Regions from separate parts of the Homo sapiens genome. Here regions 2, 3, 4 and 5 are each reported to be linked to region 1. The links are microRNA targets in miRTarBase. Many come from high-throughput screens and were not tested one by one. Region 1 holds a microRNA gene; each other region holds the end of a gene's coding sequence. Distances are from middle to middle.
What was found. The annotated mature microRNA hsa-miR-3119 reads UGGCUUUUAACUUUGAUGGC and lies in region 1 at 3,140-3,159, opposite strand. An mRNA with a match to its seed (bases 2 to 7 or 8) in the 3' UTR can be bound and repressed. Matches are read on the target gene's strand: a 7mer-m8 pairs with bases 2 to 8, a 7mer-A1 pairs with bases 2 to 7 and ends in A, and an 8mer does both.

Region 2: the mRNA of KCNK6 is a reported target of hsa-miR-3119. Seed matches in the 3' UTR shown: 8mer at 215-222.
Region 3: miRTarBase lists KANK4 as a target of hsa-miR-3119. Seed matches in the 3' UTR shown: 7mer-m8 at 3,214-3,220 and 7mer-m8 at 2,102-2,108.
Region 4: the mRNA of CCDC85C is a reported target of hsa-miR-3119. Seed matches in the 3' UTR shown: 8mer at 1,601-1,608 and 8mer at 7-14.
Region 5: the mRNA of ZMAT1 is a reported target of hsa-miR-3119. Seed matches in the 3' UTR shown: 7mer-m8 at 3,758-3,764, 7mer-m8 at 3,460-3,466 and 8mer at 3,230-3,237.

The regions. Positions count from the first base shown.
Region 1 is chr1:170,149,753-170,154,544 of GRCh38, reverse strand. It overlaps MIR3119-2 (microRNA 3119-2), which reads right to left and starts at 3,167; the gene lies at 3,083-3,167. All of the region lies in intron 1 of NTMT2 (N-terminal Xaa-Pro-Lys N-methyltransferase 2), which reads right to left. MIR3119-1 (microRNA 3119-1) reads left to right here and starts at 3,083; the gene lies at 3,083-3,167.
Region 2 is chr19:38,326,472-38,331,263 of GRCh38, reverse strand. It overlaps KCNK6 (potassium two pore domain channel subfamily K member 6), which reads right to left. Exons shown (of 3, transcript NM_004823.3): 2 at 4,276-4,671; 3 at 1-4,084. The coding sequence ends at 3,861. Among named protein-coding and RNA genes, the nearest start is that of CATSPERG, 7.0 kb to the left of the region's middle.
Region 3 is chr1:62,235,028-62,239,027 of GRCh38, forward strand. KANK4 (KN motif and ankyrin repeat domains 4) reads right to left here. Exons shown (of 10, transcript NM_181712.5): 10 at 1,138-3,354. The coding sequence ends at 3,250. Among named protein-coding and RNA genes, the nearest start is that of L1TD1, 42 kb to the left of the region's middle.
Region 4 is chr14:99,511,314-99,516,105 of GRCh38, forward strand. It overlaps CCDC85C (coiled-coil domain containing 85C), which reads right to left. Exons shown (of 6, transcript NM_001144995.2): 6 at 1-4,022. The coding sequence ends at 3,933. It overlaps CCNK (cyclin K), which reads left to right. Exons shown (of 11, transcript NM_001099402.2): 11 at 1-1,127. Among named protein-coding and RNA genes, the nearest start is that of CCNK, 32 kb to the left of the region's middle. RefSeq lists enhancers at 1-492, 493-992, 993-1,993.
Region 5 is chrX:101,879,575-101,884,366 of GRCh38, forward strand. ZMAT1 (zinc finger matrin-type 1) reads right to left here. Exons shown (of 6, transcript NM_001394560.1): 6 at 2,716-4,792. The coding sequence ends at 3,936. Among named protein-coding and RNA genes, the nearest start is that of ZMAT1, 50 kb to the right of the region's middle.

The DNA.
Region 1 (4,792 bases):
CCAGCCAGCAGGGCAGTCCTTAAGTCTTAAAGCTCCAAAATAATCCTTGACTCCATGCCCCGCATTTGGGCACACTGAGGTGTGGACTTCCAAGGTCTTGGGCAGCTCCCCTCCTGGGCTAGTCCATACTGAGGTTGTAAACTGCAGGTGGGTCTGCCATTCCCAGGTCTGGAGGCAGTTGACCCCCTTCTGATAGCTCCACTAGGCAGTGCCCCCAGTGGGGACTCTGTGTGGGACTTCACCCCACATTTCTCCTCCACACTAGTAAAGGTTATCTCAGTGTGGGGGGCTCCACCTTTGCAACAGGCTTCTGCTTGGGTGCCCAGGATTGCCCATACATTCTCTGAAATCCAGATGCTTGGCAGCCTCCACTACTCTTGCACTCTGTGAACCCACAGGCTTAACACCATGTGGAAGCCAACAGACTTACAACTTCTGCCCTTCAGAGCAGATGCCTCAGCTGTACCTGGGTCCCTTTGAGCCACAGCTAGAGCTGGAGTGGGATATGGAGAACAGTGCTCTGAGGCTACACAGGGTAGCAGGGCCCTGGGCCTGGTCCCCTGAAACCAGTTTTCCTACACTACTGGGTCTGTGATGAGAGGGGCTGTCTCTTAGATCTCTGAAATGCCTTCCAGACCTTTTCCCCATCATCTTGGCTATTAGCACCTGGCTCACTTTTAGTCATGCAAATCTCTCTAGCAAGTGGTTGTTTCACAATCTACTTTAATTCTTACTCTGAAAAAGCTTTCTTTGCCACATGGCTAGGCTGCAAATTTTCAACTTTTATGCTGTGCTTCACCTTTAAATATAACTTCCAACTTTAAGTCATTTCTCGCTTCCAAATCCTGGTTAAGCTGTTAGAAGCAGCCAGGCCACATCTTGCATGTTTTGCTGTTTAGAAATTTATTCCACCAGATATGCTAAGTCATCACTCTTAAGTTCAATCTTCCAGAGATCCCTAGGACATGGATACAATGCAACTAAGCTCTTTGCTAAAGCATAACAAGGGTGATCTTTGCTCCACCTCCCAATAAGTTTCTTATTTCCATCTGAGATCTCAGCATTCTGGCCTCACTGTCCTTGTCACTATCAGCATTTTGGTCACAATGATTTAACAGCTCTTAGAAGTTCCAAACTTTTCCTCATCATCTTGTCTTCTGAGCCCTCCAAATTCTTCCAACCTCTTCCCATTACCCAGTTCCAAAGTCAATTCCACATTTTCAAGTATCAGATGCTTCCACATGTCAGGCATTTCAGGAGCAACGCTCTACTCATCAGTACCAATTGTCTATGTTAGGCCATTCTTGCATTGCTATAAAGAAATACCTGAGACTGCTTAATTTATAAAACAAAGAGATTTAATTGACTAATAGTTCTGTACGCTGTAAAAGAAGCATGGCACTGGCATCTGCTCAGCTTCTGGGGAGGCCTTAGGGAGCTTTTACTCATAGCTAAAAGTGAAGCAGGAAAAAGCACATCACATGGCAAGAGTGGGAGTAAAAGGTGGGGTGAAGTGCCACACAATTTTAAACAACCAGCTCTCATGAGAACTCACTCATTATTTTAAGGACAACACCAAGGCATGAGGGATCCATCTTCATGACCCAAACACCTCCTACCTGGCCCCACCTCCAACACTGGGGATTACATTTCAACATGAGATTTGGATGAGACAAATATCCCAAATATATCAAAACCTATCATACAACTTGTTGAGATTATTAAATGAGATAATGCATGTGAAAACACCTAGTATGGTGTTTGGTTTAGAGTAGAAGCTCAATAAATGTTACCCTCCTCATTATATTTTTCATCAACAATGGTGGTGGGGGGGGGATTTATCAGTGTTTCTGGTGAAATCCAAGGTTTAAATGTGCCAGGATACTAGAAAGCTGTCATTACCAAGTCTCTGGATTGCCCAGAGGAACCCTCTAGGTTTTATTTGCTCCCTATAGGCTTTAGGTGTCTGATGTTTCTTATCTCTAAAATAGGGCGCTGCCTATTCTGAAAGTTGTGTGGGGCTTTTTTCTTTTCAACTGAGGGCTAGTTTAGTGTTTCCTGACTTCTAAATTGGGGAAAGACAATCTACTTTCTCAAATTCAGCAAGAGATCTATCCCCTACCTACTCGCTGAGTGTCTTCCTAACTCTCTTCTTTCTTGAACTCTCTATCTGACCTACTATCAAATCTGAGAAGGCCAGAAGTCAAGGGGAGATACTGAAGACAGATTTTTCATGATGAGATTTGACTCAGCAGTCCCCATGCTTCCTTTGCACCTCTGTAGAATTTTATAGTGGTCTCTACCACTTTAATACCACATTTTTAAAAAGTATTTGTGTACGTCTCTCTCCTACACTAAACTCTTCAGGATAAGGCTATATTTTATTTTTTTGTAATCCTAGCACTTAATGTTATGCTAACTTCTTGATGGGCCTTCTTTGAATGTTCATTGAATAAAAGCTAGCTTTTTGTTCTTTAAATAATATATGGGTACAAGAAAGAGCTGAATGGTTATAGGGATTAACCGACATAAGCACACATAAGTCATACCTTTGGTATCATTTATGAAATACCTGTCCTCCCAATTAGGCATACTCAAATAATTAAAAAATAGTAACTATAGATGATCAAACATGTTTATATGTAATACTTATGCAAAACATTTATATCGAACTGACTATGTGAGATAAACATTATATATCCATTCTACAGAAGAAGAAACCAAGGCATTAAGAGATTAACTAAATTTCCCAAGGTTAAGCAGCTAGAGAGTGATAGATCTGGGACTTGAACCTAGGTCTATTTAAGTAGAAAACCTATAGATCATCCCTCTCATACTCTGCACCTAAAAATATGTCTGCTAAATAAAAAAGAAAATTATATTTTCTTCATTGCTTGAAAGAGAAAAATGGTCTTGCAGCATTTGTATTGCACAGGTAATGATAAACATTTGAAAATGTATCATTGTACAATGAGTTGTGCAGCAATGCCTACCACAGGAATGAAATAAATTTTTAAAATACCAATAGCTGTATGGTGAGTTTTATTCTGGAAGTTCCAAGTGCTTTTTAGGAAATGTTGTTATTAACTCTGGCTTTTAACTTTGATGGCAAAGGGGTAGCTAAACAATCTATGTCTTTGCCATCAAAGTTAAAAGCCATAGTTAATTTCCTCCTCAGAGACTGATTCTTCTGAAAAGGGATCAACGCAAGAGAGGATACCTCCTATGTGCCAGGTATTATGCTAGGTACTTTCAAGTCACCTCTTCACATTGTCTCTTTTAACTATCACAATGATTATATAAGACTAGAATTATAATCGTCATTTTATAGATGAGTAAGAGAATCAGAGAGACTTGGTAACTTAATATCACATAGAAAAGAAACGTCATAACCAGGTCCTAGCACATGCCTATTCAAATGCAAAGCTTCTGGTCTTTCTGTTAAACCACACAGAACCATTGTTCTACACATGAAGTTGGGCTAAGCCTTTAACAATGTCTAGGAGTAATAGACTTTTGCTCAATAATATAATTAATGAATATTCATTGACTTCTATGTGTTCAGAAATGTGGATAGCACTGGAAGAATCATTGAGTGTTAAGTTATTCCTCAATGATTGTTACTAAACATGGAGATGTTGTCCCAACATCTCCAGTTGAGCCCTTTGAGCACTGGTATACACACTGGAGATTTCCACTGACTTGTTTTCCCATTCTATTTCCTATTTGTTCATGAATAGCCATTTTTTGAAAATTTGTTCACACCAAGCTTCTAACAGAAATTTGGTTGGCATAACTAGATTATTTAAACCTATTTACTGGCCTGCCTATCTTGATTATCTCAACAGAAAGCGAATGCTCTTCATAGGCTATGTTTGTTCCCTATTCCTGTTAAATCATAAAATATGGTAAAACTTATATTGCTGCCCACATTAGTTAAGTTTTCATTTACATTGTATTATGTAGTGGTTTAAAAAAGATCATGGAGTTAGATCACCTGGGTTCTAATCCTGCTACTCCACTCACCACCACAAGATCTTTGGCAAGTTACTTAACTCATCTAGGTGTCAGTTCTTCAAATATAATATGGGGAAAATAACAGCACACCTAATAGAGATGTTATAAAAATGAACTGAGATAATATATGCAAAACACTGAGAACAATGATAGGCTTGTTCTCACTTCTTTCTGAAGATCAGTTATGTTCAACAGCATAGCTGAGTCTTCCATTGGAGATTTTTAGTATGTATGTCTTTGCTATTCCATGAATCTCTGAAGCTTGCCAGGGATGTTTCAGCAAATTTCCCCATGACTGAATGTCACCACATATCGTGCTGGAGTGAGACTGCTGCCTAATCTAGGCAGTTGGAGGGAGGAAGGAAGGAAAGAAGGAATCAAAGAGTCTGGTTAGCCACCGTTCTTTCCATATAATTACCCCAAACAACAAACTCTCTGTGCAGACCCTACAGGAGAAGTTCCTAGCCTTTTTGAAAGAAGGACTTTATTTTCATTTCTATGAAGTCTTGAAATTATCAAGAGTAGAGGAAGCTGACTCTAAAACACCTCAGCAGAGCTGGAGAGGAAGCATCTCTTCTGGCTAAGTTTTATTTCCAAACTGAAAAACATAATTAATACTCACTGCAGCCTGAAAACTCTCATATTTTGAATTAAGTTTATCGTTTTTGGTAATGCCTGTTCTAGAGAAAGCTACATGGTGACTTTAAAAGAGGCCTGGCTCAGAGGAAGGAAATAAAGAAACTAATATTTACTGAGGAGGACTATTTCACATATA
Region 2 (4,792 bases), not on the chromosome of region 1:
CAACCTCCTAGGCTCAAGTGATCCTCCTGCCTCATCCTCCTGAGTAACTGGGACTACAGGTGTGCGCCACCACACCCAGCTCATTTTTAACATTTTCTGTAGAGGGGTCTTGCTATGTTAACATGTCCAGGCTGGTCTCCAGCTCCCGGGCTCAAGCGATCCTCCTGCCTCAGCCTCCCCAAGTGTTGGGATTACAGGCATGAGCCGCTGAGCCTGGCTTTTTTAATGTCTTGGACCAAAAAGGACTTGCTTTTCTTCCTGGAGGTATTTGGAAGGAGAAACAGTGAGAAATGAACGCCAGCTCACATAGGCACCTAGCTGCCCCGAGATGACTTTAGCTCAAAGTCAGCTGTGACATAGGTAAGGAACCGAGAAGGTTGGGAGGCTGAGAAAGGGCTAGACAACAGATATTTCTGAGCTCCCATAGGAAAAGATGCCCAACCAAAACCTTGTTCAAATCCCAGTGTTCCACTTTCTGTGTGACCTTGGGCAAGTATTTAACATCTCTGGACCTCCTTCCCCCATCTGTAAAATGTAGAGAATGTATCAGGGGCTTGGAATCGTGCCTGGCACATAGTATATCCAATATACATATTTTCTTTTTCTTTTTCTTTTTCTTTTCTTTTTTTTTTTTTGAGACAGGGTCTTGCTCTGTCACCCAAGCTGGAGTACAGTGATGCAATCACAGCTCACTGCAGCCTTGACCTCCCAGGCTCAAGTGATCCTCCCACTTCAGCCTCCTGAGTAGCTGGGACCACAGGTGCACACCACCAAACCCAGCTAATTTTTGTATTTTTTGTATTTTATGTTGCTGAGGCTGGTCTTGAACCCCTGGGCTCAGGCAATCCTCCTGCCTCGGCCTCCCAAAGTACTACGATTTGCTAGGATTATAGGTGAGAGCCACTATGCCCAGCCCCTATGACTTTTTTTTTTTTTTTGAGACAGAGTCTCTGTTTCGCCCAGGCTGGAGTACAGTGGTGTGATCTCGGCCCACTGCAGCCGCCACCTCCCAGGTTCAAGCAATTCTGTCTCAGCCTCCCAAGTAGCTGGGACTACAGGCATGTGCCACCACACCCAGCTAATTTTTGTATTTTTAGTAGAGACGGGGTTTCACCATGTTGGCCAGGCTGGTCTTGAACTCCTGACCTCAGGTGATCCACCTGCCTCGGCCTCACAAAGTGCTGGGATTACAGGCGTGAGCCACCTGGCCTGCCCCCTATGACCTCTTGATACACCCCTGGGTGTCCCTTTTGCCCCACACACCCACCATATTCTAAAGCAGCCTCAGCGTCTCCGCTAAAACCTGCTCTTTCTCTCAGGGATAACTGGCCACTCTGTGGGACATTCCCTAGCCGCGTCCCTCCAGTCTGTGGGGGCTATGGCCTGTCCACTTGGCTCCTGAGTGTGCCCGCACTCACCCCTCCTCCCTTCCATGGCTCAGCCCAGGCCCATCGTCTCCCTCTTCATTCCTGCCTCAGCCTCCCACAGGCACCCAGCCTCAGTACCCGCTCTGCTCCACCTCTCCAGAGCAACTAGGGGGATCATCCTAAAACCCAAACCTAACCATGACCCACTCCTACTCTAAACCCTTCCATGGCTCTCTAGGGCCCTCAGGAAAGAGACCAGGTTCCCATGCTGGTCATTTAAGGACACTAACGGGTGCTCGTGCGCACCCCTCTGCCCTCCTTCCCTCTTTCCCTGCATACCGTTCATACTAAACTGCTTGTCAGAAGCTGGTGGCCAGCATGCTTTTCCATCTCCAGGCCTTTGCACACAGCTCCTCCCACCTGGTATGCCCTCTCCATGCCTTTTCTACTTGTCTACTGTTGGGACCCAGCTCAAATGCCCCAGCCCTTTTTAAAATTTTTATTTTTGTAGAGATGGGGTCTTGCTATGTTGGCCAGGCTTGTCTCAAACTCCTAGCCTCAAGTGATCTTCCCACCTTGGCCTTCCCAAGGTGCTGGGATTACAGGACTGAGCCACTGTGCCCCGCTTCTTTCCTTCTTTTCTTTTCTTTCTTTCTTTTTTTTTTTTGAGACGGAGTCTTGCTGTCACCCAGGTTGGATGCAGTGGCGCGATCTCGGCTCATTGCAGGCTCCGCCCCCACCGGGGTTCACGCCATTCTCCTGCCTCAGCCTCCCGAGTAGCTGGGACTACAGGCGCCTGCCACCTCGCCTGGCTAATTTTTTGTATTTTTAGTAGAGACAGGGTTTCACCGTGTTAGCCAGGACTTACTTTCTTTCTTTTTCTTTTTTTCTTTCTTACTTTTCTTTCTTTTTCTTTTTTCTTTCTTACTTTTCTTTCTTTTTCTTTCTCTCTCTCTCTCTTTCTCTTTCTTTTTCCTTCCTTCCTTCCATCTTTCCCTTTCTTTCTTTCTTTCTTTCTCTCTCTTTCTTTCTTTCTTTCTCTCTTTCTTTCAGACAGGGTCTCACTCTGTCCCGCAGGCTGGAGTGCAGCAGTGCCATCATAACTCACTGCAGCCTCAAACTCCTGGCCTCAAGTGATCCTTCCACCTCAGCCTCTGAAGTAGCCAGGATCACAGGCATGCACCACCACACCCAGCTAATTTTTAGATTTTGTGGTTGTTGTTGAGATAAGGCCTCACTGTGTTGCCTAGGCTAGTCTCAAACTCCTGGCCTCAAGCGATCCTCCTTCCTCAGCCTTCCAAAGTGCTGGGTGTATAGGCGTGAGCCACCACACTCAGCCTGAAATCCTTTTGAAGTTGTATTATGATGATCACCATTTTACAGATAAGGAAACAAAATCAGAGAGGTAGTGTGACTGCCCAAGGACACAGGCCAGACGTGGCTAAGTTGGGATTTGAGCTCAACCAGGCTGATTCCAGGGCACAACATACAAATGTGGACAGCTCTTACAATGGTGTCATGGTTAAGGGCAGCACCTCCCATGCCATTCAGATCTGGGCTGGGGTCCTATGTCTGTTTCCTGCCTGCCAGGCTGCTGAGGAAGAGTCTATCGCCCAGGCCTACACCAGGGGTCCCTCCATGGGTCCTGCTCCCTGGAGACACCTGAGAAAAATGAGTCAGGTACAACTTCTTCCTGCCTATTTCTCATAGTTCAGGTCTTAGTTCGATGTCCCTTCCTCTAGGAAGTCCTCCCTGACTTTCCAGGCTGGATTGGGCCTAGTCCCTATGCTTCTCCGACTTCAGCCCTGACCACTCTGCCTGTGCTTTCAACACCTCACCTCCTCCATTAAAGTCCTGACCATTTTGGGCCATCACTGTCTGGGGACAGGTCTGTCCACCTCACTGGACTGCAAGCTCCATAAGGGCAGTTCTCCACCCCCAACTATGTCTCCAGCACTGTCTAGCACAGGGCCAGCACACAGGAGGGGTTTAGGGGCAAATTCTTCTATTCTTCCCATTTGGCAGCTGAGGAAATCAAGGCTCAGAGACGGGCAGTCACTTGTCCAGGGTGTAGCGACCAATCTGGTGCCTGAAATGAGGTCTGAGCCCACAGCCCAGTAGAATCAGCAGTTGACGAGTGGTTAATTGAGAGACACAGACGGAACATGAAAGAGAATGAGAAACAGAGACAGCAAGAGGGAAAGACAGAGGCAGCGAGAATGCCAGAGAGCCAGAGAGACACAGTGTAAAGAGGATGAGAGAAAGGACAGAGAACAAGGTTATGTTGGTGCCCAGTGGAGCCCGGGACATGGGGACAGGGAGTGCTGCCCTTCACATCCCAGCCAGATGCTGGGAAACAAAGGAGAGACGGTGGACGGCAAGGCCTCAAGATCACCTGCTGTGCTCGTGGACATTCCTGTACAGCCAGCTCTGGTCGCCTGGACCCCTCAGTCCCAGGCCAGGCACACCCAAGCCTGGCAGAGGCTGCCCCAGCTACCTGGGGATGGAAGCGTAGTCGGTGTGGGAGCTGGCAGAGAGTTGCTGGTGCGACTCCGGCTGGGGGCCCAGGATGTCCACCCGATCGTCCTCATCCGCATTGAAACTGGCAGGGCACGGAGGGGGCAGCAGGATGAGCTCCGTGAGGCCGTGGAGGTCGGACACGTGGCGGAAGGTCTGCAGCACCAGCACCATGGCCACCAGGCCCAGGAAGAGGTAGACTGTAAAGGCGGAGAAGGGGCGTTGGTCATCCTGGGGCTCAGATTTTCCAGGCGGGGCCGCAGTTCTACTGGACCCTGCAGGGTGGGGTTGGATCCCTTTTGGAAGTCCCAGAGTGGGACTGTGAGCCTTTAACTCCCCCAGGGACAGGGCTAGGTCCTCCTCAAAGCCCTGCCCTAGCCACCCAGCTCACCTGTGACCAGCACCTTGTAGAGGGCCCGGTAGGGCTGGCCAGGGGCCTCCCCGGGCACGTAGTCGCCCAGGCCGATGGTGGACAGAGAGATAAAGCAGAAGTAGAAGGCATCCAAGAAGCTCCAGGCCTCCTCGAGGTGGGCAAAGATCACAGCCGGCACCAGAAAGCAGACGGTCACTACGACCCCCAACAGGGCCACCAAGTGCCAGCAGGCCGCCCGCCGGGGGTCCCAGCCCCAACGCATGCTCAGCCAAGACAGGGGCACGTGAGTCAGCAGCAGTGACAGGCGCTGGGCTGAGGCGGTCAGCAGCAGCATGGTGGTCGGCACGCCCAGGAGCGCAAAGGCGATGGAGAAGGCCTTGCCCGCATCAGTCAGTGGCGTTGTGTACCCATAGCCTAGGGGAGTAAAGAGAGTAAAGGGTAAATCTTTTTCTTTTTAGAGATGGGGGTCACTCTGTCACCCGGGCTGGAGTGCAGCGGTGCCATCATAGCTTACTGCAGTCTTGAACTCCTGGAC
Region 3 (4,000 bases), 110 Mb from region 1:
GTAATAATAAAACTCTGTTCTTCTGCACAGCCAGCTCCGCATGAAATTACTCTTTCTCTATCGCAGTTCCCCAGTATTGATAAATCGGCTCTGTCTAGGCAACCGGCAAGGTGAACTCACTAGGCAGTTATGGCAGTACTCTTCTGCCTGGCACACTCACCTCTCATTCCGCTTCCTTTTCTGCCTAACATCCAGTAATCTTTAAGTTCATTGGCCCTTTCTCCAGGAAGCCTCCCTTGACTTTCTAAGGCCAGCTCTGGTGCCCTTTAGTGGTACCTCTCTGGGCTTCCTTCTGACCTTCTATGTGTTTTCCCTAGTGGATGATGAGGCAAGAGACTGAACTGGACTCACTGTGATGTCTCTAGTGCTGGGAACAGTGTCAGGCACCTGGCCGGTTTATAAATATATACATATACATTTGAGACAGAGTCTCGCTCTGTTGCCTAGGCTGGAGTGCAGTGGCATGATCTTGGCTCACCGCAACCTCTGCCTCCCGGGTTCAAGCAATTCTCCAGCCTCAGCCTCCTGAGTAGCTGGGATTGCAGGCGCACACCACCACACCTCGCTAGTTTTTAAAAATATTTTTGGTGAAGACAGGGTTTCATCATGTTGTCCAGGCTGGTCTCTAACTCCTGACCTCAAGTGATCTGCCCGCCTCAGCACCCCAATCAATAGATATTTTTAAATGAATTTTAGAGCTGAGGGACAGTGACAGGAAGGCAGGCTGTGCTTGTTCATCTCACCACACTCTGAGCTCAGACATTCCAAAGGAAAGAAATGGTTATAAAGGATGAGATCATATGCTCATGTCCAAAACTCAAGATTAAAATAAAATTATTAAAAATCTCAGAAAGGATGGACAGTCTTTTGATAGTGATGAATAAGTAATCTTCAAGCTCTAGGAAACCCAGTTTGCTTTTCCTGGTAAATAAGTTGTTTTTAATATGATTTCATTTTTTTAAAGTGACCCAATGAAAATTGCCACCTAATATGAGATGCAGAAATAAATCCTAAACAGGCAACACAGGACACAGACCCCATACTGCTGTCTGCAGAGACAATAGGAAATAAGACCCGCACTGCAAATTCCCAAGAACCAAGAGCAAAGATATGCAAAGAAATTTTGAGACAGAAGACTGAGAGGCAGCATTTTAATATAACAAACAATAAGGATAGGCCAGAGGCTTGCTACTCAAAGTGTGGTTGTGGCTCGATAGCATCAGCATCTCCCAGGACCTGGTTAGAAATGCAGAATCTCAGGCCCCACCCCAGACCTACTGCCTTCTAACAAGATCCCAGGTGATTTGTATGCACATAAATGTTCGCGAAGCACCGGGCTAGAACATTTATTAACGTAGGATGTTGCTCTTACAATGTATTTTGAGGTCAAAATAAACTCATTTAAAGCATTTTTTTTCTCATTATTTGCTCCATTCTCTCCACCTCTGAGTTGCATCAACACATGTCATTGTGTTCTGGGACTCTGAGCCTCTCTTATGAATCACAATGGCAAAAGAAGTTTGCTGTACCATTGCTGTAGATGGCCTTAATGGGTTACAAATTGGATTTTTTTTTTTTTTTTTTTTGAGACAGAGTTTTGCTCGTTACCCAGGCTGGAGTGCAATGGCACGATCTCGGCTCACTGAAACCTCCGCCTCCCGGGTTCAAGTGAGTCTCCTGCCTCAGCCTCCCAAGTAGCTGGAATTACAGGCGCCTGCCACCACGCCCCAGCTAATTTTTGTATTTTTGGTAGAGACGGGGTTTCTCCATGTATGTCAGGCTGGTCTCAAACTCCCGACCTCAGGTGATCCACCTGCCTCGGCCTCCCAAAGTGCTGGGATTACAGGCGTGAACCACCGCGCTCGGCCACAAATTGGATTTTGAAACTTCCATCAGCTGCTTCTTGTGCAGCACCTCCCAGGAGGTAGGTTGTATGACAATTTCTGTTTTTAGAGATGATGAAATTGCGGCCCAAGGAGGTTTCATGACTCACCACAGGGGCACCCAGCAAATTGGCATCTGAGCCAAAATGAGAGTGCAAGCTTTTGAGTTTCCAATGTAAAGCTCATCAAACTTTGACATTACTTCTTTTTATATAAGGGGCTTTTTTTTTTTTTTTTTGCATAAGAGATTTTAAGAGAGCAGATTTAAGAAAGATTCAGATGACTTCACGTGAGCTACTGACCATATAAACCTTGCATGTGCTGGCCCCAGGGAATATGGAAGCTTCGGAAGGTATTGCTCTGCCCTGCCTGGGTCCCTTGCTCCTATTGCAGCCAGAAGTCCCAAAAAACCTCAGAACAGATATTTGCTTCTAGGGGATATGAGGGGAAAGCACCGGGAATTACCATGAGGTAATGGATACGGCTATGCAGGTGGCTTCTTGATGACAATAACCCATCCTCAGGAGGAAGCTTTTTTTTGTTTCTTCCACAGACTCAAAATAGCTGAGAGAATCTGACTCTGCCCAAATACATGTGGTGTGTGTCATTGGATTGAATTTCTTTTTTTTCTTTATTACATAGCAACTTACTAGATAATAAATTTCTTAATTAATTCCAATTTCCCTGGAGCAAATTGGAGCCACTAGATGACTCAGAAATAGTCAAGACTGTACATATGGCATTGATGCCAAAGTGCTTCTTCTACCCTGTCAGATTTTAAGATTTCTCTGTCAACCCCATCGAAACAAAGCTCCCAAATGGTGCTTGTTCAGTTTCACCAGTCTGCACGGTGATTCTTCTAGGGTCCCCTACAGAATGCTTGCCAGGGGGTTGGCTTAAATCCCCTCCCATCTATAGACATGCATATCAATGGGACATATTTGTATACACTTGCTTAAAAAACAGAAAGATAGTGCACTGTAAAATTCCATGTAAAAAGTATTGCTTTTCTAATGTGCTAATGTGCTCCTGCCTGCCTGCTTGCTACACAATGTTACAGAGGGTAGAGTCATGAGGAATTCAAGGCTGAAGATGTTTTGGATGTTTGGATGACACCGACGTACCCCTCACCTTGCACCTTGAACCCTGCTCTGAAGCCCGTGTAGTTTTCAGGCTTGGCCTAAGGCAAAAACTACAAAGCATCCTAATGAGCAGAATTATACAACAGGAATGTATGTGCATATTTGACATAGTTTCTTCTCTAGAAGGGTGGCTCTCTGGCCTGTGACCTCTGCCCTCTTCAAGGGCGAGGGAGGAGTCCAGAGAAGAAGGCTTTTGTTCCCCACGGCCAGTTCTTCTGCAGCCCCTACAGCCCCAGGGACCTGCCCTGCTCCGCGTGGGCTCTCAGAAGCCCAGCAATTTCCATATGGGTGGGTGACTTCAGAGCGATGGACAAAGCTGTGCGGCCAGCCTACAGGAGAAAAAGGAAAGAAGAAATAAATATCATCCAATCTGCCTCCTGCCTGGGGGAGAAGGGCAAGTTGGGAGTAGAGGGTATGCCTGGGACACAGGTGTCTATTAAGGCTTCCAGAGACCTCGGTAGAGAAGATTCGAATGGCATGAGGATCACCAGAAATGCGGTCCCTTCCACAGAAACAATAGTGACTCCTGGGAAATCTGTGACAACAGAAATAAAGAAGGGCCATCTAGTTTTTAATGCTCTTTTTTTTTTTTTTTGAGATGGAGTCTCACTCTATCGCCCAGGGTGGAGTGCAGTGGCGCAATCGGAGCTCACTGCAACCTCCGTCTCCTGGGCTCAGGTGATCCTCCACCTTCAGCCTCCCAAGTAGCTGGGATTACAGGTACACACCATCATGCCTGGAAAATTTTTGTATCTTTTGTAGAGACGGGGTGTCACCATGTTGCCCAGGCTGGTCTCAAACTCCTGGGCTGAAGTGGTCCGCCCACCTTGGCCTCCCAAACTGCTGGGATTATAGGTGTGAGCTACTGAGCCCAGCCCCACTTTTTTCTACTTTAAATTGGAAAACAGGAAATAAAATAACTCTTGCTGTTCCATTACATGTATCTAAGTGAAAGTTCGCATTTTGGTGTGTTTT
Region 4 (4,792 bases), not on the chromosome of region 1:
ATTGGATGGCTTTTTTTTTTTCCTCCAGGGAGAAGGGGAGAAATGTACTTGGAAATTAATGTATGTTTACATCTCTTTGCAAATTCCTGTACATAGAGATATATTTTTTAAGTGTGAATGTAACAACATACTGTGAATTCCATCTTGGTTACAAATGAGACTCCTTCAGTCAGTTATCCAAATAAAAGCAGTTCTGAAACTATCCCTTTCTTTGTTATGGGTGGAAGGTGGGGCTCCAGGCCTTCGCAGTCTGTGGCTTATAAAATGTGCAGAGGCCCTCCTTCCAGACCCTGGGGACGCGGGAGAGGCCTGGCTGCAGCTCACAGCAGCCACAGCCAACCCCACTGCCTCCCAAGGCACTCTGGGTGGATCCGCACAGCTGCCTGCCAAGCCAGCCTGCCCCCATCCTGTGCCTGCCTTGGTTTCCTTTGGAGGACCTGGTTGAGTTCCAAACCAGTTTGAAACTTTGAAGCCTTGCTGCGTAGAACGCACACAGGAACCCGGGGGCTTGGATTTGAAACCCTTTCCACTTCTGGCCTGTGATGAGACAGAGGCAGCTGGAGGAGCAGCGGCCTCACTGTCCACCTTGAGGGGCCACGGCTCTGTCTGTGGAAGGGGCCCCGACTGAGCCCCCATCTGCGGTGCTTGAGGGGCCTTGGCCCTGTCTCTGCCTGCTGACCCTGCCACCCACGACAGAAACAAGCACTGAGCACCCAGCCAGGAGGCTCACAAAGAGGCCTTTATTTATCTAGCTCAAAGTAGACACTATCACAATCTTGTTTGTTACTCCTTTTACTAAAATAGTTCAAATCAATGTTTTTACCACACTATCAAAAAGTTCTATTTCTTCTTGTCTCCCCACGTCAGAGTGGTTGAATAGAAGGTAGAAACAGGCCGGGAGTCCACGGGCTCCCAGCTCTAAACGGCGCCAGGGCAGGAAGGGGTGGCTCCAGGTCTCACTGTGGCACCTTCTACAGAAAATAGACGTAGCTGCCGGGCCCGGGGACAGAAACCAGACGTTCCAGTCCATCTCCAAAAAGCAGCACAAATACTTTGCCCCACAGTATGAAAAATATACACCTCTACCGCTCTGCAGTCATGCATTTAGTTTTAAGAAAAAAAAAAAATCAGTAGTATGTATCTTGTTTCCTCAAGTTTCAAGAAAAAAAAAATGAAAGGTCACTTTTTTCTCTTTAAACACTGATGTGTAGCTAGTAACTTGGATAAAAAGGTGCCACCCTACAAAATGTGCTCAGCATGTTCTGAGGCCAGGATGGGCTTGGCCACCTGGGCTGGGGCGAAAGGAGACCTCCATCTGTCACAGTGGAAACTGAAGCCGAGTGCCAGTGCCGCGTCCGGCTTCAAGATCAAGAGTCAGAGCCTTTGAAATGGAAAGGGGGCATCTGAAAGGGCACCCCCACTGGGGGCTTTCAGAGCTAAGGCTCCAGAAGGAAGGGGGTCGCCCTGCTAGTGACGGAGCTGGGAGTCACCCTGAGCTACAGCATGCCCAGATTTCCCCTGTGGGAAGCCCCATCTGACCTTCTACAGCCCACGGCTCTGCAACTGCCACCTGTACTCAGGTACATGGCGTCGCTGCTGCTGGCTTTTAAAATCAGCTATTAGTTTGAGATGTGACAGTCGCCGACAGGGTTCTGTCCTAGAAAGCCATCCCAGTGCCGTGTTGGCTCAGGGGTCACCAGCTTTGTGCTGCCTCCGTAACAGCAGGAGGGTTCTCAAAGCAATGTTCCACTGATCCCTGGATGCCACTGCAGCATTAAAGACAGGGTCAGTCCCCTTGAGGGGAAAGGTGGCTTCAAGGCTGTTCTCTGGGCCTGTTTGCAGGAGATCCGCAGGTACCAGGAGCCCGTACTTATTGCTTATTTCAGTGGTGGCCACGCCAACCTGACCCAAACATGATGCACACGGGCTCCCAGACTTGGCTGCCACTCAAAATGGACCCACAGCCCTTGGGCTACTCTGCGGTTCTTTGGACTGCAAGACCCAGAGGGGCCTCTGCTCAGCTGCCCACTCGGGCAAGAATCACTGGGTACCATGAGCAGCAGGTGTTCACCCAACTTCACGTGTACACCCCTAGTGACCGGGAGCGCACCACCTGACCGGGCGACACTCCTTCCCAAAGAGCCTCCTGGCAACACCCACGGCAGGAGCGCCACACCATCCCATCACCAGCACCCACTTACCCCCCTGGGGCTAAGATGGGGGGCGTGAGCCTTTCCCCTGAGAGCAAACGGGCAGCAAGAACTGCTCAGAATAGAGCCGCCAGCTAGGGAGAGGGACAGGGCGGCCATCTCCCTCCTCTTGCCTGCATCCCCAGCCCTGGGCCTGCATGAGACCTGCTGGGTAGGAAGACAGCCTCTCTGGGCTCTTCAGGTGGGGCTGAGCAGCCCCTGGAAGAGCACAGGAGTCTGACGAGGACCTGGTGAGGTCCTGGACCCAAGAGCTAGGGCTGCTTACAGTGGCATGAGCGGATGTGGGGAAGCGGCCTGTCCCCGTGCTGCAGCTGTGGGATCAAAATCCCTGTCATGTGCCACACATCACCCCCTCTAGGCCTTACTTTCCTCACACACACAGTTTTCTATTGCACTTTACAGTTTATACATGGTCATTTACACTGAAGATCTCACTTGATGCCAGAATCCTGTGAGGAGGGCCTTATGCTGCCCATTTTACTACTGAGGACACGGGCTCAGAGTGGGGAGGCAACTCTCCACCCGCAGCGACTGCAAGGCAGCAGAACTCAGCTCCACCCGGCCCGCCCTCAGCCGTCGGCTGTTGGCTCACGCCCCCTCAGTGAGGACCCCTGCCCTGTGGCGCTGGATGACCTGGAGCCATAAGCATGGCCGAAAAGGAACCTCAGAGACCTGTTTCCACCAAGAGCCCAGACAGGCTGAGTGAACTGCTAAAGGTCACACCACAAACTAAAGGCAGAACCTGGCCAGACACGCTCCTTCCCAAAAAGAACAGAACTCTCATCTGCAGCCTACACAGCTCTGTCCACAGGGACCCAAGATGCAGCCAGGCCCTGGGGGAGGTCACAGCCAACCAGAGCCCCAGCTGTGGCCCAGTGCTGCCCATCAGGAAAATCACATGTGGCTCAGCCCAGAAACTCTCCCCAGGCCCTTCCTGTTACTGGCCTGTCATGTAAACCACGAAAAGGGACGTGCCTCAGGCATGGGGCAGGAGGAGCCCAAGAAGGGCATAGCCTGGACAGGGTGGCAGGGGGACATTGCAGAGACTGGGGGGGAGGGGGATGACCTCCAAAAGCAAGGAGCAGCGGGCATCGGGTGGCTGAGCACAGATCCCCAGGTGTGAGGGCACCCTGACCTCCAAGGCTGAGGGTCACAGGAAGGGCCCAGGGCAGCCTCCAGCCAGCCACAGATGTGGTGAGTGGCCTTGTCCACATGCCGGGGACCCAGTGCTTGGGGGGCCTGGGGCCAGGCCACGGCATTTGGGCAAGAAGTGGTGCCACCTGCGTCAAGACCCAGGTAGTGGTGGTCTCTGTCCAGTGTGGGTGGCAGCCGGGGAGTAGAGGGTTTGATGAGTGGCCCCTCCATCCCAGGCAGGACAGAGGAGCCTGGACAGTTCCCAGGCTGGATCTCAGAAGCAGCCTGCAGCCTCTTGCTCATGGAGCCCAGGGCCCAGAGGGGGAATGAGGCGTCCGGGCCGCTCTGCTGCAGGAACAGTCGCAGCGTCTCGTCTTCCCAGGTTGCTGGTGTATGAGGCGGGAGATGGCGGCTTGGGCCAGTGCATCGGACCCATGGCAGCTGGGCCAGGGCGGGCAGCGTCCTATGTACAGTTCACCACAGAGGAAGAAGACAGGGGCTGGGCTGGAGGTCCTGCCCGTGTCTGGGGCCTGAAACTCCCCCTGGGGACCCCCAGCAGGGCCAGTCCACGTCCACAGAAGAGTGGCCCTACAAAGGCCCCTTGAACTGGTTCCCAGACAGGTGCTGCCGTATGGAGGGCTTGGAGCTGGCTGCATCTCCCAGCTTTCTCCAGACCACCTGTGGAGAGGAGAGAGATGTGAGTGGTGGGACTCACCCGCGTCCACCTGCCGCCTATGCACATCCGCCGCCTCATCACGGCAGAATCACCCACGTCCTCAGAGCCATGGGGCCAGGAGGGACACGGAGGCCACTGCAGGCCCAGAGACACCCACACCAGGTCTTTGCATGCCGCGCTAACTATCGGGCCTGAGCAGGTCACTGCTGGGGTGTGGCTCAGCCTTGCAGCTGTCCAGTGGGGTCCACAGGCCCCACTAGGTGATGCGGGGGAGGGGCTGCACAGTTCAGAGCCTCTCGCCCCCCCTTTAAGTCCTGGGTTCAGACCCTATGAAACTCCTTCCCCGATGGCTCCTGCAAGCACCCCCAAGGAGACCGCCGATGGTGCTCAGCTGGGTCGAGCACGGAGCTCTCCTGGGCAGCCCCAGCCTGGTGGGCTGGAGGGTTCCACCTGGACCTCCTGCTCTGAGCACCATCTGCCCAGCCAGCAGCCACAGGGGGCACCAGCAAGCTGAGAGGCCCGGGGGCCAGCACCCAGGGAACACCTGGGGTGAACAAACCAGTCCCGGGGGGGTGGGGGGCTCAAGCTCTATCCAGAACCCCAGGCACGGCACTCCTGGGGAGGGCGGATCTGCAGACACCAGGGGCCCTCTGGGAAGGGCAGGGGGCAGCGAGATGACAACGGGCCAGGGCTCCTAGCACCTCTGAGGCCTCCCCCCAGCTATCCAAGGTCACCCAGCCTTCGCTGAGCATTCGAGAAATGGAGTCCCACA
Region 5 (4,792 bases), not on the chromosome of region 1:
AAAACATATGGTGGATAGTTGTGAAATCCTTAAGGGACAAGTTCACCACAGCTCTCTCTGATCTCTTGATGATTCTGTGCAGTTTTCTTATCTGTAATTCAGAACCTGTGATCACTTCTTCCAATGTTTCAATTGCTCTCAAACCTATTTTCCCAGTTTGGTCAAGAAATAATGATATCTCAGAGTAGGGTGATGACAGTAAAGATGAAGAGAACTGAACATTAAGAGAAACATTTTGGTGATATAATCAAGGGGAATTGCTTATGGTCTAATGTAGGAGAGAAGAGATGCTCAAAAATGGTTTTTGGCTTAGGCAATTAGATGGTTTTACAGAAATAAGGGAAACTAGATGAACAATTGGTAATGACAGAAGGCAGCATTCTATTTGGCTATATTAAGTTTGCAGCGCCTATTAGATAACCATGTATATATATCAAATAAATAAATCTTTGAACTGAGAGAAAATGGTCTGCTTAGATGTCCTTCGGGAAGCCTTTTCTGAATGCCCTCTTCCCATCCCATTAAGCTCACTACCTTTGCTACCCACAGCGTCCTTCATCACTTTGATTGAAGCCTTTATAAAACTTATTTTGTAACTGTCTATTTATTGGTCCATTTCCTCTGTTGGACTGTGAGCTTTTTGAAAAACAATGTGTGTTCATTCTTTTTTCAGGTTCCTTCCTGGCACAATGCTGACAGTCAGCTCTTATTTGTTCAATGCATGCACACAAGACAGTAAATTCTATTTTTCTACAGCTCCAGTTTTTGAAAACTATTTTCCAGATTTGCCCAGTACTTGCCTCCCTGTATCTTCTACCCAGTTCAGGATTTATCTCTGAAGTTAGATACTTTTAACTTATTCCAAATATTCTCTTATATATTTGACTTAGACCATATGTGATTTTCATGTCTGGGTGAGCATATTAGTCTTTCAAACCAAGCACGTAATAAAATCCTCAACACTGTTTTCACATATAATATCTTAAATTATGCTTCCTCAAATATGTTTTTGTATTGAAATACCCAAATGTAGGATTTACTATTTATATCATTAAATTTCATCTTAGTGAGTTCAACACTTAATTCCAGAAGTGGAGATAATTTGGGATCCTACACATAAACATCTTGACTTACATATACTCTTACCTCTAAATGCTCAGAGGCAGAAGTTGGGAGCATAACAAATGTGCCAAAGTTGGGCTCCAGACCCTTTCCCCACCTTCAACCAGAACATTATGTATTTAGGTTAATGTAAAATTTGTTTTATGGTGAGGTTAACGTAAAATTTATTTTTGGCAAAAAATTGTCTTAAAATTTTTGAAAACCACTTTTCTAGAGCAAGTCACTGGTGCATGTCCCAAGACCGTAATCAATACTACATCCTTTTTGGTCTACTCAACACATCACCAATTTAAATGGTTTTGGTTTTTAAAGTTTGCATGACTTATCCACTATAGATTAAATATGGGTGGATAATTTTTATGAATCATTGTATCTATTTTTAAAAGATGAGAGTAATTTTGTATCTTAGGGAATATTTTTATAATATATAGTTTTGAGTCCTCTCCAACTTTAAATACAAGCTTCTATGAAAGAATTCGTCAATTTAACAGATGCTGGCAATTCAATTGATCTTATCTTGCACTTTGTGAAAAGGTGCTGCAGTTCTTGGTGTGCTCAAAAAAGATAACTGACCAATTTGTGCTTGGTGATTCGCAGTCTATGTATTCTACTCTAGTTCTTCTTTCCCCTCTCCTTTCACCAATACACCAAATGTATTTAAAATGGGGGATGATATTGTAGCATAAAATAATCTTACAACAACAGTCTCATGGAAGAAAAGTGGATTTGGGAAGCATCTAATTCCATTTAGGACTATTTACTCAACTAGGTATAAACCCAATCAATCATATTATGCTTCAGCTTACATTTACTATTTTATTTAAATTGCAAAGAACAGCTATTAAATGCCTTGCCCAAATGCAGACATGTCACCTATTAAATGCTTTGCCTAAATGTAGATATGTCACCATCTAAATTTATTTTGTTATCTTTAAAAAATAGAGACAGGATCTCACTATGTTGCCCAGGCAGTTCTTGAACTCATGGACTCAAGTGATTCTCCTGCCCCAGCCACCCAAAGTGCTGGGATTACAGGCATGAGCCACTGTGTGGAGCATACATTTGTTTTTTGATAGGATTAACACATGAAGAGAACACAAAGCCTACTTTTCATATTCCTAGTGATTCCAAGTTGGATTCTAATGGTATTCTCACAAGGTCACAGAGCAACTTGATGGTGCAACTGAGACCAGAATCCTGGAATTTAGATTCACAGGCCATTATTACACTGTCTACTATCCCATTGTGATCCTCAAATACTTAGTGGTACTGCTCATAAATAAAGGGAGCACCAGCGTAAAAAATTTGTCAAAATCAAACAATTCAAAGGTAACACCCTCTGGTCCTCTACCACTTACCAATTCTTCCTTCTTCGGTTTCAACCATTTAATTGGTCATATTTTCCTAACCTTAAACTGAGTTTGAGACTCAGTATCAGCCTCTGTGAGATAAGATATAGAAAATATAAAATTATTACAACTTCATAGTGTGATCTCCTCAGAGGTATTAAGTGCCAACTGTTTAATTATTGCCCCTCCAACTCCCAAAATAATAATTTTGGATGGGAAATGATCATTTACATAAAACAATATGTAGAAATTAAAACACTTTAATATAAACATTTCCAGAATATAGACTGACCTTATATCAGTACTTTTTGAGACCGTTTTAAAACTATATATCATCTAAGTTTATTATAGACTGTTTCATTTTCCACTTTCAGAACTAGAAAATGCAAAAATACACTGCAAATTAGATTTAACAAAGAAAAAATCAGTTTAAGTTATTTCATACATATTCCTTGGAGAAAGCTGAGACACATAAACACAGAAAAACAACAATAAAATACCACCAACACTAACACAAAACCAAGGAAAGAACTGATTTTGTAACGCTTGGTAATTCTGTCCTTTAAAATAAATTATCTCCCATGAATAAATAATTCACTATCACAGCAATTTGATGAGCAGAAGTAGAGACAACTTCATTTAGGGAAATTACATTATATGTGAGATATGTGAGAAACATTTAATAATTTTTTTTCTTTTTTAAGAAAATGAAGGAAAGTAACTTGAGGAAAAGGCATACTGAATACTTTTACTTCACTTGGCTTTTTTAGAGATTAAAGTAGCCATCCACCTAGAAAAATTACAATAACATGAATTTTATAAAACCAAACTTTTTTTCCTTCAACTTTGAAGGAACAAAACTAAAAAGTTGAAAATCCTAGAGTAGACTCATCCCAAATCACTGTCTCTTCTGTCTTTTCTTGAGTAGGTTTCTTTTTCTCTTAAGTTCTTGTGTTCTCATGTTAGTGTTGTTCAGAGGCTAGGTTTAGGCTTTTTTGTTGTTGTTTCTTCTTTCAATTAAATTTCAAGTTTTTTTAAATAGCTTTCCTGAAGTGACACTGACTGTATCTACCTCTCCTTTTCTTCATCTGATCCTCTTGCTTTTGTCTAAAGTCCATTTTCTTAGCTGATTTCCTCAATTAATCCTTGGGCAAACAAAACTAAAAGTTCAATACCCAAGAATAGACTCATTCCAAAACACAGATTCTTGTCTTTTCTGTAACAGGTTTCCTTTTCTCTTATGTTCTCCTTGAGTTCTTATGTTCTTTTCTCAGAGGTTAAGTTTGGGCTTTTTTTTTCCTTCTTTTAATTCAATTTAAATTTTTATACAAAAAAAACCTAAGTGTCCTGAAGTGACACTGACTGTATCTACCTCTCCTTTTCTTCATCAGGTGTTCCTTTTTCTAAATCCATATTGACTGTTTTTTTTTTTCAATTCAACCTTGGGTAAACAAAACTAAACATTCAAAATCCAAGAATAGACTCATCCCAAAGCATTTCCTCTTCTGTCCTTTCTTCAACAGATTTCTTTTTCTCTTTCCTGTGCTTACGTTCTTCTTTCTCGGAGGGTACATCATGGCTTTTTTTCTTTTTTCGATGCTTAAGCTTTCCTGAACTGACCTTGACTCTATCCTCCTCTCTTTTCCTTTGTCTGATGCTCTTGTCTTTGTCTAAATCTGTATCTTCATAACTCTTTTTCCTTTTATGCTTGGACTGCTCTTTCTCTGGCCTTTCTTTGCCTTCTTCTAGGTGTCGTTTTCTCTTCTGATGTTTCCGTTTATGACCTGCTTGATGGTCAGCAGTATTGTTTTCTGAAGAGAGGTGCTTGTAAACTTCAGATTCTACACTGTATGAGCCAGAGTTATTTTCTTGCTGATTAAGGCTCAAGGGTACTGGTTTTTCTGGGAAACAGTCTCTGGTGAGTTGACAGTAGCTAATAGAATCTAGTCTCTGTTTGCTATCATGAGCTGGTAAGCAATGAGGTAACTGGTTTTCCACTACTTGTGAAATACTATATGGTCCTGAATAGGTCTGGAAAGTCTCACATGGGAGCTTTTGCTCCAACATTCTATGTCTGGGTCTGACATCAACCATTTCTCTGTTCCTGTGTGTTTCTACAGAGCTATCTCCTATCTTTCTGAAACAAGTTTTTGGCTCTAGTCCTCTGGCTTTCTGCACTTTTATGTAATCTTCAAGTTCATCTTGGAAAGAATCATATGTCCTCTTTGAATGGGTTGGTAGCCACTGAGGTAACTGGCTTTCCACTGGTGAAATATGGTATGGTCGTTGGTAGGTCTGGGAAGCCTCATGTGAAAATCTTT